Linked DNA regions of Homo sapiens. The protein of the gene in region 2 purifies or fractionates together with the protein of the main gene of each other region. This does not show direct contact. Each region holds a gene or a part of one and is shown on either strand. Other genes may lie near its edges. The genes, in order: PICALM, SERPINB1, PKP2 and MB21D2.

Evidence for each region.
Region 1: the proteins of SERPINB1 (region 2) and PICALM fractionate together in Homo sapiens (co-fractionation; one large-scale study listed by BioGRID). This does not show direct contact.
Region 3: the proteins of SERPINB1 (region 2) and PKP2 purify together in Homo sapiens (co-immunoprecipitation; one large-scale study listed by IntAct). This does not show direct contact.
Region 4: the proteins of SERPINB1 (region 2) and MB21D2 fractionate together in Homo sapiens (co-fractionation; one large-scale study listed by BioGRID). This does not show direct contact.

Annotation. Positions count from the first base shown.
Region 1 is NC_000011.10:85,974,635-85,978,934, forward strand, and holds part of PICALM (phosphatidylinositol-binding clathrin assembly protein), read right to left. Parts: intron 3,460-4,300; coding exon of another isoform or gene 3,436-3,459; intron 2,049-3,435; coding exon 1,989-2,048; intron 179-1,988; coding exon 74-178; intron 1-73. UniProt on the Homo sapiens protein: Cytoplasmic adapter protein that plays a critical role in clathrin-mediated endocytosis which is important in processes such as internalization of cell receptors, synaptic transmission or removal of apoptotic cells.
Region 2 is NC_000006.12:2,831,263-2,835,562, forward strand, and holds the end of SERPINB1 (leukocyte elastase inhibitor), read right to left. Parts: intron 2,751-4,300; coding exon 2,346-2,750; 3' UTR 1,070-2,345; downstream 1-1,069.
Region 3 is NC_000012.12:32,790,062-32,793,623, forward strand, and holds the end of PKP2 (plakophilin-2), read right to left. Parts: intron 2,671-3,562; coding exon 2,583-2,670; intron 2,432-2,582; coding exon 2,363-2,431; coding exon of another isoform or gene 2,218-2,362; 3' UTR 694-2,217; downstream 1-693. UniProt on the Homo sapiens protein: A component of desmosome cell-cell junctions which are required for positive regulation of cellular adhesion.
Region 4 is NC_000003.12:192,911,118-192,915,417, forward strand, and holds part of MB21D2 (nucleotidyltransferase MB21D2), read right to left. Parts: intron 1-4,300. UniProt on the Homo sapiens protein: Probable nucleotidyltransferase that catalyzes the formation of cyclic dinucleotide second messenger in response to some unknown stimulus.

The DNA.
Region 1 (4,300 bases), on a different chromosome or scaffold from region 2:
ACAAAAGGGTTTTATAGTATCATATTCCTTCCAAATCAAACACATTACCACAGTTACATGTAGTGTGTAATACCTGTGCTCCTGATACAGGGCCAAAGGGGTTTGGAGGTCTCATGACAGGCTGGCTGTATATTAAGGTTGGTTGCGTCATTACAGGAACACTTCCCATTTGTGGAGGCTAAAAAAGAGAAAAATATCAAAAGATACTGACTCCTATCTTCCTTATTGTGACTAAGTAAATAACAATGACAACAGGGATGACAGGTCCTAGTACCTTTGCTTGACTCAAAGGGTAACTTCCTCTGAATATAAGTAAGACTAACAGCTACAAACTTTCGAGAGTATTTTTTTTTCTTTTGGTAAGTAAAGTCTTTAACATGCTCATTTTTAAAATGTAGTAACAAAGCCTAACTTTTTCTATTCAATGAGTTGCAAAATGTAAACTTTATTGTATTACAACAGATAAAATGATTAAGACTAAGAGTTTCCAAATTTATCAGGTTTAGACATCAAGAAAACTTAAGACTCTGTCTTCGCTGCTAAGAAATTTCAAAGTAAATTTGTATAACAAATCAAGTACTTTTGCCATTATGCAAGTGATCACAAGTGAAGACAGTTGATTCTCTGAATAAGCCTGCTCTAGTTCTTCCATTTTATTTCATATAAGAATCAAGAAAGAGCTTAAACTACAAACCAGAGGTTAACTCTTTCTTGAGTAACTGAAAATACAATCTCAACCAAATATGTTTCTTTAAAAATTACCACTACAGGGTATAAAATTAACCTAGTAAGTGACAATACCTAGTGTAAAAATAATGCACAAACAGAATACTGTTTTGGTTAAAATGCAATGCTCTAAAATCTTTCCTTTCAAGAAGTTCTATTTATTGTTTCAAGCAGACTACTATTTGCATTTAGAGCTTCATTTTAAGTTTATGGCCTGAGTTTCTCAGCAGACTTTTTTTTTTTTTTTTTTTTTTGAGATGGAGTCTTGCTCCGTTGCCCAGACTGGAGTGCAGTGGCATGATCTCAACTCACTGTGACCTCTGCCTCCTGGGTTCAAGCCATTCTCCTGCCTCAGCCTCCCAAGTAGCTGGAATTACAGGTGTGCGCCACCATACCCAGCTAATTTTTGTATTTTTAGTAGAGACGGAGTTTCACCATATTGGTCAGGCTGGTCTTGAACTCCCAACCTCAGGTGATCCACCCACCTTGGCCTCCCAAAGTGCTGGGATTACAGGCGTAAGCCACCACACCCAGCCTCAGCAGACATTTTAATGCAATGACTATGAAAAAAAGCTGTGAAACTTCTCCACATGTATAAAAGGAGTTACTTCCATATCATATACATAAAGAAGTAACATAGCAGGCACAGTAGCAATACCAAGGGACACGGTACTGCCTTCTACCAGGAACAGTTCCTCAAATACATACCAGTGGGTTGAAGCTACTAGCACCATTTCTTTTCTAATTGAGTCTCTATATACTGAGAGTTGGGAAACTAAGGGCAATCTAAAATGCACATTGTGGCATTTTGAAAGGTTAAAAGACTGTTTTTGTACTGTAATAATCATTGTCACAGGAAAATTTCTCTAGCCTTTATCAGACTAAATTTATCTCTATACAATTCAAGTGTTAATCCCTCCCATGCCCTACAATATCAGGTTATAAGACCTCACTGGTATTTAATATATGGTCACAGCAACAAAGGCTTAGAATTAACATTAATGTTTGAAATATAAAAGGCCCAGCAAAGTTACGAGGAGAAAAATAAACCAAGTAATACTATGAACATTAATGCATAAGATCTCTTGTATAATGATTATTCTAGACATACTTATGAAACCAATGCTATGGTTCTACTGCATTAGGCACTAGGGCTAGGAGTATGAGGAGCACTAAATTCTTTTTTAGGTTAAATTGTAATAAAAACATGTTATATATGAATCAATATTTTTTCCAAAAGCTGTACCTAGGAAAATACTTACAATTCCATATCCTATCATGCCTGTTGGTGTAGTAGCAGGATAGGCCATTACAGGGGGTGCCTAACATAGTGAAAGGAAAAATGAACAAGAAAGTATAACTCATGTGTGTCAACTGAGTTCAAGGAATTAGTAGCTGTAGTTCCACTAAAAAGAATTGCTAAGACAGCTGTGAGTAAGTGACACTTGTGATCATTAAGAACTGTCGATTAATGGTCAGTGAAAAAAAGTGTTTTGAAATTAGCAGAAAAGCAGACTTATTAGAAGGATAACTATACCACTTAAACTTAGATACAGCAGTGATCTAAGATTTCATCATGCTTTTTACAGCTTTAAAAATCTTTAGATTTAAAAAAGTATCTTAAATAGTTCTAAATAGTTCTAAAATTTAAAGCCTATCACTATCATTAAAAAATGTCTACCCAGAAAAAGTATTATTGAATGTTTTCTTACTTAGGTACCTGATTGCTTTAGCATTCAAAGAAAAAAATGTAAAGATCTCAAATCAATCAATAACCTGATCTTCCAAAAAGTTAGTTTCTAAGGATCTTACTCACTCTTTTCAAAAAACTCCAAAGGTTTCAAACTACTATTGAGTATGACTATTTCTATGAGCCATAGTTCTTATATAGAGTATGTACGTTAGCTTTCTAATTTATTCCAAAAATTATTTAAGAGGAACAATCAATTAGGTCAGTTTATGCTTTCATGTTTAAAAGAACCATCTATCACTATGATGTTTAAGTTCCCCTCTTCCTACTACTTTGATTATCTGTAAACATACAATTTGAGAACAGAATCATTTTAGATATAGTTGCTGTCTTAACAACATTTCCTGTGTGTGTTTCTCATAATGAAAACTGAAATTGAATAAAGGTGAAAGACCAATAACACTGCTAAAACATAAAATAACTGAAATTATATGGCAATTTGAACATATGCATGGAGAAATTAAATGAAATATAACTTTAAAAAAATAACACTAAAGTGAATAGTTATAAGTTTAGTATTCGGGTGAGCGTGTAGGACTTATTGGTCTCTCCCTACTTAAAACCAAGATCTGCAAGAGCAGTAGACAAACTGCCAAGAAGAGCAGAAGCCTGTAAGATTTCATGCAGTTGTTATTTTAAACATTACCACAATCAACATTTCCCTTCATTCAGAAGTCATCAAGTGCATAGTGGCAGCACAGATACACACACAGACACCCAGCCATCTGGCAGCAAATGGCGGAATATTAAGCAAGAAAAAAAATCGGTATTTCCCATGCCACCATCAGAATCAATTCTGCAACACACCCATGAAATCAGTAGATGCTAGGAAGAATTTCTGGCACATTGAAAATCTGAATGTGAAAACAAGTAATAGCTGAAAGGTTATGAGATTCTGCTACAGCAGTGGTTAATAGCATGCCAATTTATTGCAAAAAGGCTCGTTTTTGGTCACTTACGTATTGTGGAAAATGCATGCCATTCTGTTTTTCCCAGGGAGAACAATTACATAATGCAATAACACTGGATTAGAACAAGTACTTACACAACAGAAAATACACAGAGAGCATTTTAGTTCACATGTACATTCACTAACTACCTAAAATCCCTTGTATTTCCAGTATCTAATGAAAGAACATCTATACTAAAACACTATCAAGGTTGACAAGGGAATTGTAGTCTTTGGCCTCATCTCTTTATATAAAAAATAGTTTATTGATTACAAGTACCATTAAAACATCAATTCTATCAACAGTGTCAACAGTGCAAAATTTTGGGCATTGCATAAACAGGGTTGCATCAGATGTCTACCACAGAAAAAAAGCAAGCACTAATTAAAAGAATTTGTAGTATAATATATATTTTAATAAAATTCCAATGAATTTGTGTTAAATTTAAAAAACACTGAAAAACCTTGACAGTGTTTAAGGATTAATAAAAAGGTTAGAAATGTAAAGAAATGTCAAAAGCAGCAGTTTATCTTAAGTAGTGAATCACATTATCAGCCCCAAACATTAGCCATTAAAAAGAAAACTCCATAAAATACATATAAATATTTAAGCAAAATCCTTAGGAGATGATACACATTACCATATATAACACAGCAAGATAAAGACTGTTACCTTATCAACTTAAATACAAATTCTACATGACTAAATACCTACTACATTTTAGTAGTCAGTCTTAAGTGCTATCTATGAACTCCTAATACTTCATATAGATTAATACTAACTTAATATAAGAAAATATTCATTATATTTTAATAGCAGCACTGGTATTTATATCATTCCTCATACATCATCAATGTCATAATTCACACGAGTC
Region 2 (4,300 bases):
CTAATATTTGGAGCCCCTGTACTGGTGTTTCTATTGTCTATCTTTTGTGCTGGTTTTAGTTTACATTGTCACGGCTCCTCAACTGTCCAATTACCTTTGATTATGTGCCGGATATCATATTATAAAAGCTGATGATAAACATGATTTGAGGTTTACGGGTAATTTTCCCCAAAATATGATTTTTGTTTGCTTCTGCAATGTGCCCCTGGGTAGCAGCAAACCAGGATGAAAATAATCTACTTCTAGGGATTGGAAAGTTCTGGGCTGTCCAATGACTTATAGCAGGGCTGCATTCTGAGCTGACTCTGTCATACTCATAGGGCATAGCTCTTAGGATGCCAAACAAAAGCAGAGGCAGTATCATGGCGCCCCCACTCTTGACAGGCTCAAACTCTGTCTACCACTTCTCATTCCCCTCTTCTGGACTGGCAGATGGCCCTGGGGCAGAAGTGGCCCCAATTTCCAGATTCACTTTTCTGAATTTCCAATTTGTTCTGGATCTTGGCCCAATAATTCTTTATGTTCAGATTAGCCCTCCCTTGCCTTTGGGCTGATGCTCGTTTTATTTGTTTGATTTTTAACTGACTTCAGAGGCCTGAGGTAACTATTTCACCATTACATAAATTAGATGCTCTCCACATAAAATACGCATTGGATTCTAGTCTCTGCCCTGGAACTCACCAATTGTTTTGACCTTCAACAATTTACTTATAGTCTATAGGCCTGTTCCCTCATATATAATTTGAGCGGGCTCACTTGGGCCCCTACAATTCAGTTTCTACACAATTAACATGATTTACTCCAAATCAGAGTGGATTTTAGGATGAGGAACCAAAAGAGAAGACTTACAGAAGGCAGAGTTTTTCCTGAGAGTGAGAAAACCTGGAATATGGTAAGTATTTTAAGAAAGCGGGAGAAAAGAAAGTTTGTTGGCAAAAGAGTTGCTAAAATTTTGTTGTTAACATGTGGAATTCCTCTCTACCAACAATGTTGTAAGGCCAATAATCCCCACTTGCAGTCTTAACTTGTCTAGGGATAGGGGGCAATAAGAAGAGGCCTGAGACCAGTCTAGCTTGCAGAATCCTAGGACGTTTTATTAATTCATGATGCCCACTATCCTTGTGGGAGCAAGAATATGCGGCGTTTCAAGCTCCATTCAAAGAACTACATTTGACAAAGTTTTATATCAGTCCAAGAGCCCCCACCCCATCTCCCCACACAGCCTTGGAAGTCAAGAGCCTTAATCAGAAAACACATGAGAAGGCCAGGCATGGTAGCTCATGCCTGTAATCCCAGCACTTTGGGAGGCTGAGGTGCGCGGATCACCTGAGGTCAGGAGTTCGGGACCAGCCTGGCCAACATGGAAAAACCCCATCTCTACTAAAAATACAAAAATTAGCCAGGCCTAGTGGTGCATGCCTATAATCCCAGCTACTCAGGAGGCTGAAGCAAGAGAATCACTTGAACCCAGGAGGCAGAGGTTGCGGTGAGCTGAGATCGTGCCACTGCACTCCAGCCTGGGTAACAGAGCAAGACTCTGTCTCAAAAAAAAAAAAAAGAAAGAAAGAAAGAAAAAGAAAAAGAGAAAAGAAAACACATGAGAAGGTGGCTAACAGTAAAACCTTTGTTCAGCAGTTTATCTTACTACATGGTTATTTTTGTAGACTCTTGGTATCTTTTATCCTAAGACACCCACTTCTTGATTTCATGCAGCGCCACATGAACTATATATTATACATAAAGAAGAACAAAAAAGGGAATGCAGGTTATAACCATTGGCCCTTTAATTGAAGAGTCTAAAAACTAGAGGTCTGTAACAGAATACTAATCCTGCAGAACAAGGGACAGAAAAGTCAGGCGAGGCAAGCTTGTCTTCGTAACCTGGGCTCTCAATTGGGGTGCTCTCTTACATTTCAATTGAATATCTGTTTTTAAACCTCCCTTCAACAGTCAGGGTGTCTGTCTATTTTGTGGCTTCCAAAATTCTAACTGCAAAATAAATGACCATCTTATCATGTTTTCCCATGGCTATCAGGAGGATATAGCAATTTTATAGATTACTACATGGTCAAGAATCTACGCATCGGATGTATTCTTTTCTTCTTCTTTACTTGATGCATTCAAAAGCAACCACTGGATTTTTTTCAATGTAAAAAAGAAAAATAGATACCCATGCCAAAATTCATGGGTGTAAACAGCCAACAGAGCCAAACTTACAAAGAAAATGAAAGACTTGTTTCTGAACAGTGGTTTTATTGGTAAAGATATAAGACATATTGGCTCTATTAAAAACTCAGGTAATAAAGCACTAAGCTTGATTTTTGTATTGCTACAGTCTCTTTCTTCTAAGGGGAAGAAAATCTCCCCAAGAATAGGATGCTACCTGAGGAATTATGCCGAATAAAGAAAAGGAATGGATGGTCGGCAGTGAAATTTTCTTCGGGCATCAACATGCAGAAAGTTGCGATGCCTGCTGTGGCAGCTGCCGCCTCTGTTCCCTCTTCATTCACTTCCACAAATGACTTGTGGACAATTTTTGATATAAAAATATCTCTGGCTCCTGACATGCCAGACAGATCAGCCTTGCTACTGTTAAAGAGATCCTGCACACCTAGGCGGGCGAGGTCGGAGTTGAGAGTGTAACTCTCTTCCAGTTTGAACCTGGGCAAGCTGACATTAACTTCAATGAAATCGAGATTCTCAGGTTTAGTCCACTCATGCAACTTTTCCAAAGTCAACTGTTCCTCAATCTGCAATTAAAAATGAGGCGAAAGAGGAAGTGATATCAATTTTACATAAGTAAGGCAATAAAGTATTATTGAATCAATGGACCCATAATATCAGTTGCTAGTTAGTTTCCTTCATGTTTTGTGCCAAAACAGATTCCATTTGGAGCATTTTATTTCATTATGGCAATTGGTGAAATAGGGCAGAGGTGGTGTTCCAAGTCATCAAAGGTTCAAGGGATTTGTACATTGGGTCCATCATCCACTCACCCACCCATCCACCCATCCATCCACCCATTTGTCCACTCATCCATCCATCCATCCATCCATCCATCCATCCATCCATCCACCCAGCTACCCAGCAACACAGCCACCCATCCATCCATCCATTTATTCACCTATCTACCCACCCACCCATCCAACCATCTATCCACCTATTCATCATCCATCTACCCATCCACCCATCCATCCATCCATTCACCTATCCACCCACCCACCCATCCAACAATCTATCCACCTATCTATCATCCATCCACCCATTTACTCATCCACCCATCCACCCATCCATCTACCCATTCATCCATCCATCCATTCATCCAGGGTTTACTAAACCCCTACCACAATGGATTACAGTGATAGGTCATGACAGCTGCTATTACTTCCAGGTTGAGTAGTGCTAGAAGAAATTTAAAATATTTCTTCTATTTAGTCTGAATCCCACTGAAGCTGAAGTAATATCTAATAACTTTAGCTCCTAGGTAAAAATTTTAAAGGCAGATTATGCACTGGAGCTAGTTCCTCATCTGAAATGTGATGTGGACATTACTTATATCTACCTTATAGATTGTTGAGAGCATTAAATGAAATGATGTATATAAAGTGCTTGGCCCATAGTGCTACATAAATGTCAGCTATTATCATTACTATTGTTATAGCTATTGGACTGGAATAGAACCATCACTCTACTTCTTCTAATGGTGCTGATAATTCCTTTTAAGAGGCTAGAGATTTTCACTTTACAATCAGAAAAAAAACTAATGCAAAAATACAACCAAAAGAAAGGCCACATTGATTGTTATACAATGTATTAAAAGTCTGTACATGCAAATGATTAACATTAGACCCCCTTCCTGATAGCAAGGATGATGAATAGGTGGATAGGGAGGAGACGGAGAGCACAGAGCAGGCTAGAGTCCCTACATATAATGGAAACCTCATGCAAAGATCATACTAGTAAATAGGCCTAACATGTCACATGAGGCTTTTTCTGTCTTGTACCCATTGAAAATTTAATTCACTATCTATATGAATTGTGATGAGAACAAACAGTGTAATAATAGAATTTTATAGTACGTGATGAAGATATATGCTACACTATTTGGGGCTTTTCAATCTTTTTCCTCAGTAAAACAATCCTCATCTTACTGTAATTTCCTCTAAAGCTAATTCAAGAGCCTTTCCATGAGCTGCCACTAACCAGTATTATATTTAGTATAGATCTTTAATGACCCCATCACAAGTGTCCACTGAAAGTAGCTGGCCATCTTTCTTGAAAAATGAAACGTTAGCCGGGC
Region 3 (3,562 bases), on a different chromosome or scaffold from region 2:
CTCCCACTTGACATGTTAATCCCCTCTCTATTTTATCAGATAACCCTTTGGTTATTGCCATCAGATCTACACAAACGTTTCCAGTGATGGAAATCTAGGGCAGCAACCCCCTTCATTCCAGAAGACCATTAAGAATTCTTGACAGAGAGCAGCCCTTTGGAACAAATAAACAAAAAGGCCCAGCTTTGCCCATTAGTTTCTCTGAAGGCATGGGCCCTGTCTGGGACACATAGGAAAACAAACACATTTATGTATAGACCTGTGATCAAAACTGTTCATTCACAGAAGAACCTCCCTGAGAGGTGTTCACAAATTGTAAAGTAGTGAGGTGTTTGCAAACAGAGTGAACAAAGCAGCACATGGAAATCAAACGTAGTCTGTCTTTTCACAGTCACAGAATCACCCAATAATATACTAAAATCTAACCGCAGCTAACACGTCTGCATGTGTCTTCATTTTTATGGTCAGGTCACCATCTAGTCCCACCATTCTCACAGGAAATGTCTCTTGGTAAAAATTTAGGATTTTAATTAAGGGGAAAATATAACTAATTACAAAGTATCAAACCCTTAGTAATTGAAGTTTATAAGGTTAAATCCTCAAATTTTATGTCAATCATACCATATATTCCAAGATACACAAATAAACCAGATATACACAGACGCCAATGCAAGCAACACTACTTTGGTCTCATTTTGTATTTAATATTATCGAAGGCTTTATTAATGCCTTAAAAAACACAAAAAGTTCTGAACACACATTTATTATCTGGAGGAATAAATGCACTCCAAATGCTTATCATCAGAACTCTGGAAAAAGACATATAAATTCTCTCCAGTATTTTAAAAATTGGTATCTAAATAATTTCATTTTGAACTAGGTTAGCAACCTAAGTTGTCTTCATTCAGCTTTTAAAATTGAAAAAAAATTGCTTCAAATATAATAAAGACTTAAGTACACATTCAAAATTTATTTTCTGTTACAGTTTTCTTGCCAAAAGGAGTTGAAGAATTTTTTTGCTTATCTTACTTAGGACAAATGTTGTCAGATTAAAAAAAAAAATAACAGAATAGTAGTTGTAAAGACTAACTCTATATGAATGGTTTTAATCATAGCGCAGTTAAAACAACATTTAATGTAGATTCATTTCGCTGGATGATGTCAACCATTTAAAATATCAGTATTTCTCATATCATTTCTGGATGGTCTTGACACATTCTTACATCTTCTTCAACATGACTTCTTCACTTTTCTTCTCTAGAGTTTTCTTGAGTTAAAATAATGGCTTGAAGAAGATCATATGAGATCTAGTGGCTCTGTGATATTTCTTAAATGGTGGGCAAGGCTGGGCTGGCTGATAATGTAACTCATTAACATGAGCCGTATTTTCAGTGCCCCAGGCTGGCCAGGCAGTCTGAGAGAAGGCCTTAGTTCCTCTTGCAGATAAAGATAGAGTCCATTCTTTCACTAGTCCAGGGCAGTGGCCAAAAAAGTCCAGGAAAGGCATTACATAGAATGCCATCGTTTAGAAGAGATTTGGATTTAACGGCGTTGTTATAGGTAAAGTATCTCCTGAGAAAAATCTCATTGACTCAGTGTTTGGGGGAACGTTAAATTTTATCATCACAGTTGCCTTTCTCTGTGGAAAAGATTTTATTTATTTATTTATTTTTTATTTTACTTTAAGTTCTGGGAGGAAAAGACTTCTTTAATTTGCTATGATCACTTCCTCTCAATTTCTTTTTCTTACAGTCATGCATACTCTGTAATCTAAATTTCTTAAGTTTATTTAAAAATCAGAGAAAAACAACCCAAGGGGATAAAAACAAGCACAAAGTAAAGAAAGAAACCAATAATTTTGCCATTATACTTTCTCCTGGATAACTGCAGATATTTCTTGTCATTTCCATTCTGTTTCAACACTGCAGAACAATACACTGGAGGCCCAATGGCGAAGCAATGTGCACATGAGTGACAAAACATGGGAACCAGAAAAGGAATATAAATGTAAATCAAACTTTTAAAATCCCAGTAATGCAACAGCTTCTTTCCTTATTTATTGGATTAATGTCCCTTCCACATGAATTCACATTTTGATTCCAGGAAGCCATGTACCATAAGCCCTAATAACAAAGACCACTATTTGTCGAGCCTGTGGCCGGTATCTACTGGTGGCAAACTTGCAAAGGTCTTCTGGAAGACTCATAAAATTATGTTCTATTTGTTTTCTGGATTCAGGGGACCACGGAAATAGAGAAGGATAGAAACAAGGCATGCTTTTGAGGTTTCTTGGGCTGGGTAGTAGAAAAATAGGTGTTTTCCTTTGGGGATTTTTGCAGCCGAGAATACTTTGTCATTTTCCTCAGTCTTTAAGGGAGTGGTAGGCTTTGGCAGTCCGGCTGTTGACAAAATCTGTCTTCTTAAACTGAGCCTTTGGAATAAGCAAACAGAAACGTGAAAGGTAACAAAACTGGCACACAAGAAAATGCAGTTTTTTAGCGATTTCTTCCCAGGGTCAAGTCAAGTGGGCCATTATTACCTGGCTCTGTTAACTATGACACATTCCTTGTTCATGTTCTTACCTTCTTGTAGGCATGATGCAGTTCCGTGTGTGCCCACAGAGAATACAGAAGGACGGAAGCAGCTTTACTTGCTTTGTTGGAGGCATAGCTGAAAAGAAAAGGACATTCTGAGATCAGGGAGAATGAGTGAGGCTTCTGGATGCGGCCTGTGGGTGTTCTGTAAGACCTCTTCGCTCCTCAACTGCTACTCCGCAGCAGCCATCCATGAAGTCAGGCCACTCGGTGACCAGACAATTAGGCAGCAAGCTCTGCAAGGCGGGGACCATATCTGTTTTTGTTTTCTTTTTAAACCACTAGCACAGTGCTAATAAATAAATAGTTTATAGGCCAGGTGGGGTGGCTCACGCCTGTAATCCCAGCACTTTTGGGAGGCTGAGGTGGGTAGATCACGAGGTCAGACCATCCTGGCCAACATGGTGAAACCCCGTCTGTACTAAAAATACAAAATCTAGCTGGGCGTGGCAGTGTGTGCCTGTAATCCCAGCTACTCGGGAGGCTGAGGCAGGAGAATCACTTGAACCCGGGAGGCGGAGGTTGCAGTGAGCCGAGATCACGCCACTGCACTCCAGCCTGGTGACAAAGCTAGACTCCATCTCAAAATAATAATAATAATAATAAACAAACAAGTAATTTATACAGAAAAATCCCTGATATTTATAAGGAATGTATCTTTAGATATGTTATAAATCCTTGAATTATTTATAGAATATAATCTATATTTGTATACTTATAATGTATGTTTATAGAATAAAAATGCATGAAACCATGACTGAAAAATACATACGATTTTGTGACATCATGAATGTAGGAGTAATTTTTCAAGTCAATAAAAGAAATTCTTGTGGCAGCCCTTGTTAAAGCAGTTTCAAAATCTCTTTACGTTTCCATATAGAGCAAATGGAAAACTTGTTCTTGCTATAAATCAAAGTCACCACTGCATTTGAACTGTACTTAGTCTTTCATATTCTGCTTTTTTTTTT
Region 4 (4,300 bases), on a different chromosome or scaffold from region 2:
GTCCTTGTTAAAAGCCAGGGTTTTGTATTCATCCTGACCCAGGTTAAGTCCCACCTATGCCACTCACTTGCTGGTAAACTTGGATGAATTCCTATATTTTTCTAATTCTAGGGTTCACCACAGTTTTTTTTTTTTAACCTCAAAGTGTAATGGTGATGATTAAATGATACAGTAAAGTCCTATTAAAACCTGTGACATAGTAAACACCCTTGTCTCACTCACTATGCCTTTTTGTCTCTGTCCCAGGTGGAAGAACTCCACTATTACTTTCCAGGAGCAGACAGACATTATCTGCTCATTAGGCTCAGCAGCTTGGTTCTAGTCTCAAAAGTCAACTGGGATCATGCTCACTGTGCCTAGAACAGAGAATGCAGAACATCAAGCCTAACACAGGACAGGATGTTGACATGCTGAGCAGCTTGTTGGGGGATCTCTAGGGAATTCGGATTCAATAGGTCTGAATGGGACCAGAGATTTTGAATTGTTAGAATCTAATATTTCTGTGAATTAAAAAGGGGCTCAGCCTAACTGTGAGCAATGTATTATCCAATGAGTGGCATGACAAGGAATGACAGGAAGACCCAGGACTGTCGACAGTTCTAGGCCTCTTCTCTCAAGGACGAAGGGCAGCCACTGCCCAGAACCATGGAGGGGGAATTGAAACCAATCCAAACTAGCACAAAAATGAATGTTTGGAGAGATCCCCTGCCCTGGATACATAATGTTCTCAGAGATAGAACAAACTTCCGAGATGATCCTGTGCACTCTACAGATGCAGCACATAGTGAATACAACTCTCGGGAACTTTCCAAGCACATGGAGGCCCATAAAACACCAACGCACCATAAATTTCCATGGTAAATCCTGCTGGGGGAATTCATTAACAGAAAAGTAGCAATCAAACACTGGAAAGGTAGGGCTTCAAAATTACCCACTCTGGAGATGTAGAAAGTGCCTAAAAATATGGTAGGTCCAGGAGCACCACACCAAGCATTTACATCTTTGAAATGGCCACATGGCACTTATTGGCCTGAAAGGAGAAACAGCCAGCAAAATATCCTGCTAGAGTTGGTGGGCAAAGGAAACAGGGGAGGGGTCCCTGAAGGCCCTTATGAATTTCTCAAAGTTTTTGTTCACCATTTTATCTTCAGAACCCTGCACGCTGATTGGCAAACACTATTACATTCATTAAGTATTTGTCAAATGCGTGAAAAAAACAGAGGGAGAGAAAGAGGGACAGAGACAGGAAGACAAAAAGAAATTATCTCAGGCGGGGCATGGTGGCTTACGCCTGTAATCCCAGCACTTTGGGAGGCCGAGGTGGGTGGATCACCTGAGGTCAGGAGTTCTAGACCAGCCTTGGCCAACAACATGGTGAAACCCCATCTCTACTAAAAATACAAAAATTGGCCAGGTGTGGTAGCGGGCGCCTGTAATCCCAGCTACTCGGGAGGCTGAGGCAGGAGAATCACTTGAACCCAGGAGGCAGAGGTTGCAGTGAGCCAAGATCATGCCACTGCACTCCAGCCTGGGCAACAAGGGCAAAACTGTATCTCAAAAAAAAAAGAAAAAAGAAAAAAAGAAATTATCTTTGCTCCTACAGACTAGGCAGGCTACTGAGTATAGTATGTCTCACCCAAAAGTGATGGAAACTGATTGCTACTACAGTAAAAGGAACATGAGCTTCTGAGTCAGGAATAACTGGATTCAGTCTCCAACTCTGAATGATCTTGGCCTAAGTTCTTGACTTCTTTCTTTGAGCCTCACCATTTCATCTTTAAAAAGGGTAACAACACCTATTTCACTTCCAAAATAGGCATGATACTTATGCTTACAAAGTTGTGGAAAAAAGATTACATGAGCTAATGGACTTAGGCAAAGTAGCTAGCACAATGGTCAGCACATGGTATGAGCCAAAATCCTCCTGGGCTACCCTAATTGTACTGCATAGTTCTTTCAGATGTCAAGCTGCAGAAATAATTCCAATTTAAGTTCACTGGATCTTCTAAGAAAGTATATTTTTATCCCAGCACTCTGGGAGGTCAAAGCAGGAGGATTGCTTGAACTCAGGGGTGTGAGACCAGCCTGGGCAACATGGCGAAACCCTGTCTCTACCAAAAATACAAAAAACTAGCCAGGCGTGGTGTTACACGCCTGCACTCCTAGCTACTTGGGAGGCTGGGGTGGGAGGATCACTTGGAGCCCAGGAAGTAGAGGTTGCAGTGAGCTGAGACTGTACCACTGCACTCTAGCCTAGGTGACAGAGCGAGACCCTGTCTCAAATAAATAAATAAACAAACATTTATTTAAATAATAAACTCACGTATATATTCTTTTTTAGTTAGCAAAGTAATTTCACATTCTGACATAACAGTTCTGAAAAACAATGCTTACTGTTATCCATGTTTAATAAATGAAAAAACTGGCCAGGCATGGTGGCTCATGCCTGTAATACCAGCACTTTGGGAGGCCAAGCCAGAAGGATCACTTGAGGCCAGGATTTTGAGACCAGCCTGGGCAACATAGTGAGACTCCATCTACACAAAAATTTTAAAAAATAAAAAATTAGCTGGGCACGGTGGTACACATCTCTAGTCCTAGCCACTAGGGAGGCTGAGACAGGAAGATAGCTTACGCCTAGGACTTTGAGGCTGCGGTGAGCCATGATCATACTATTGCACTCCAGGCTGGGCAACGGAGCAAGATCCTGTCTCAAAAAAAGAGAGAGAAAATACTAAGACCACAAAGCCAACAAGAGGCAGACTGGGAATGAAACTATAGATTTTAACATTTTATTATAATTACTATGATTTTCTCAATCAAAAATTCAAATAGGAGATCTTATTATAGAATACTTGAACTCAGACTGTTCCAGAAATCTACTTATATTACGCTAAAACTTATAGCTAAAATCGAAACAAAATCCTGAAAGAAGTGATTTTTTAAAACAAAGCCTTTCCTCTGGATTTTATGCATCTATTCTTAATAGTCTCAAGTAGGAGAAGAGGAACATGTTTTAGAGTAAGGCTGACCTGAGTTTCAGTAGCATCTCTACCATCTATTAGCTTTGTGACCCTGGATATCCACTTTCTTCACCCCACTAAATTTCAATATCTTCATCTATGTAATGGGAAAGCAATACCTCCTCAAAAGTCTATGTGAAGTTCCTGGCCCTGAGAAGATGATTAGTAAATGATTAACTACCGTAAAAATCATGCCATGGTACCGACCACTTGGTCTGTAGGTTAGGTGACGGCTTGTTTCTTTCCTGCCTTCTCCAGCATCTGCATACCCCCTTTTCTGCATCTGTTCAATGGGGACACAAACCAGTCTCTATCGAACCTCACCAGGGAATGAAGATAACAAAAGAGCTGGCAGAGACATTATGCTAATACCAAATATTATTAAAACATTAATGAACTCTGGCAATTTCCCTGAATTTTGATAAATGGTGTTTATTATGCACTGCCAGCCTTTCGCACAGTCTGGGCTCTCAAATATTAACTAGATAATAACACCAATCATTCTCCTAAAAGACCAAGGTACAGAGGAATAAGAAGTGAATCTAGACAATTGCAGCTAACACCTGCCTCCAAAAAAAAATCAGAATCTCTGTACAAACAGAGAGCATCAGGACAGACCCCAGAGACCACAGTGACCACCAGCAAGCTCAGATCAACCCCACAGCCTGTGCAGAACCCTACTTTGATAAGACAGTGGAGTGTCTTGGTGTTGACAGGTCATTGATTATGACAGCTGTCTACCACCTCCTTGCTCTTCAGTGTAAAATTCCTCCAAACTAGACAAAATGAAAAGGATCTGTGAAGCTGGAGGGGCTTCAGACTTGGCTAACAATCTTACACAAAAAGAGAGTAACATGCCTCACCCCTGCCAACTGCCTGAAACATGAGGCAGTATTTTTCTCAGCTCCACTAAAGAGGCTTGCACCCAATTCGTGGTTGGCCACTTCATTCTGTGTGAGGGGATAATATCTGTAAGCTGCTAACAATCCCCAGGTGCAGCTCAGATACAGAACAAAGCCAAGAGGACTGGCCACCCTCCACCCCCCCGCCCTGAAATGAGGGCCTGGTACCACCCAAGTAACACCTTAACAAGCTAGGGGTCATTAAGAGACTTCATTTGCATAGTCATCAAAGAACCAAAGCTATGGCAAGTGAAACAAAGTGTATAAAAAAAATGATTTTGTTCTTTAAGCCAAGCCAAAATCTGCTTTAGAAAAAGTAAATCCACATAGGAACCCTTGCTGTCGCCAAACCTCCACTTGTGTAGAGCAGCCAGC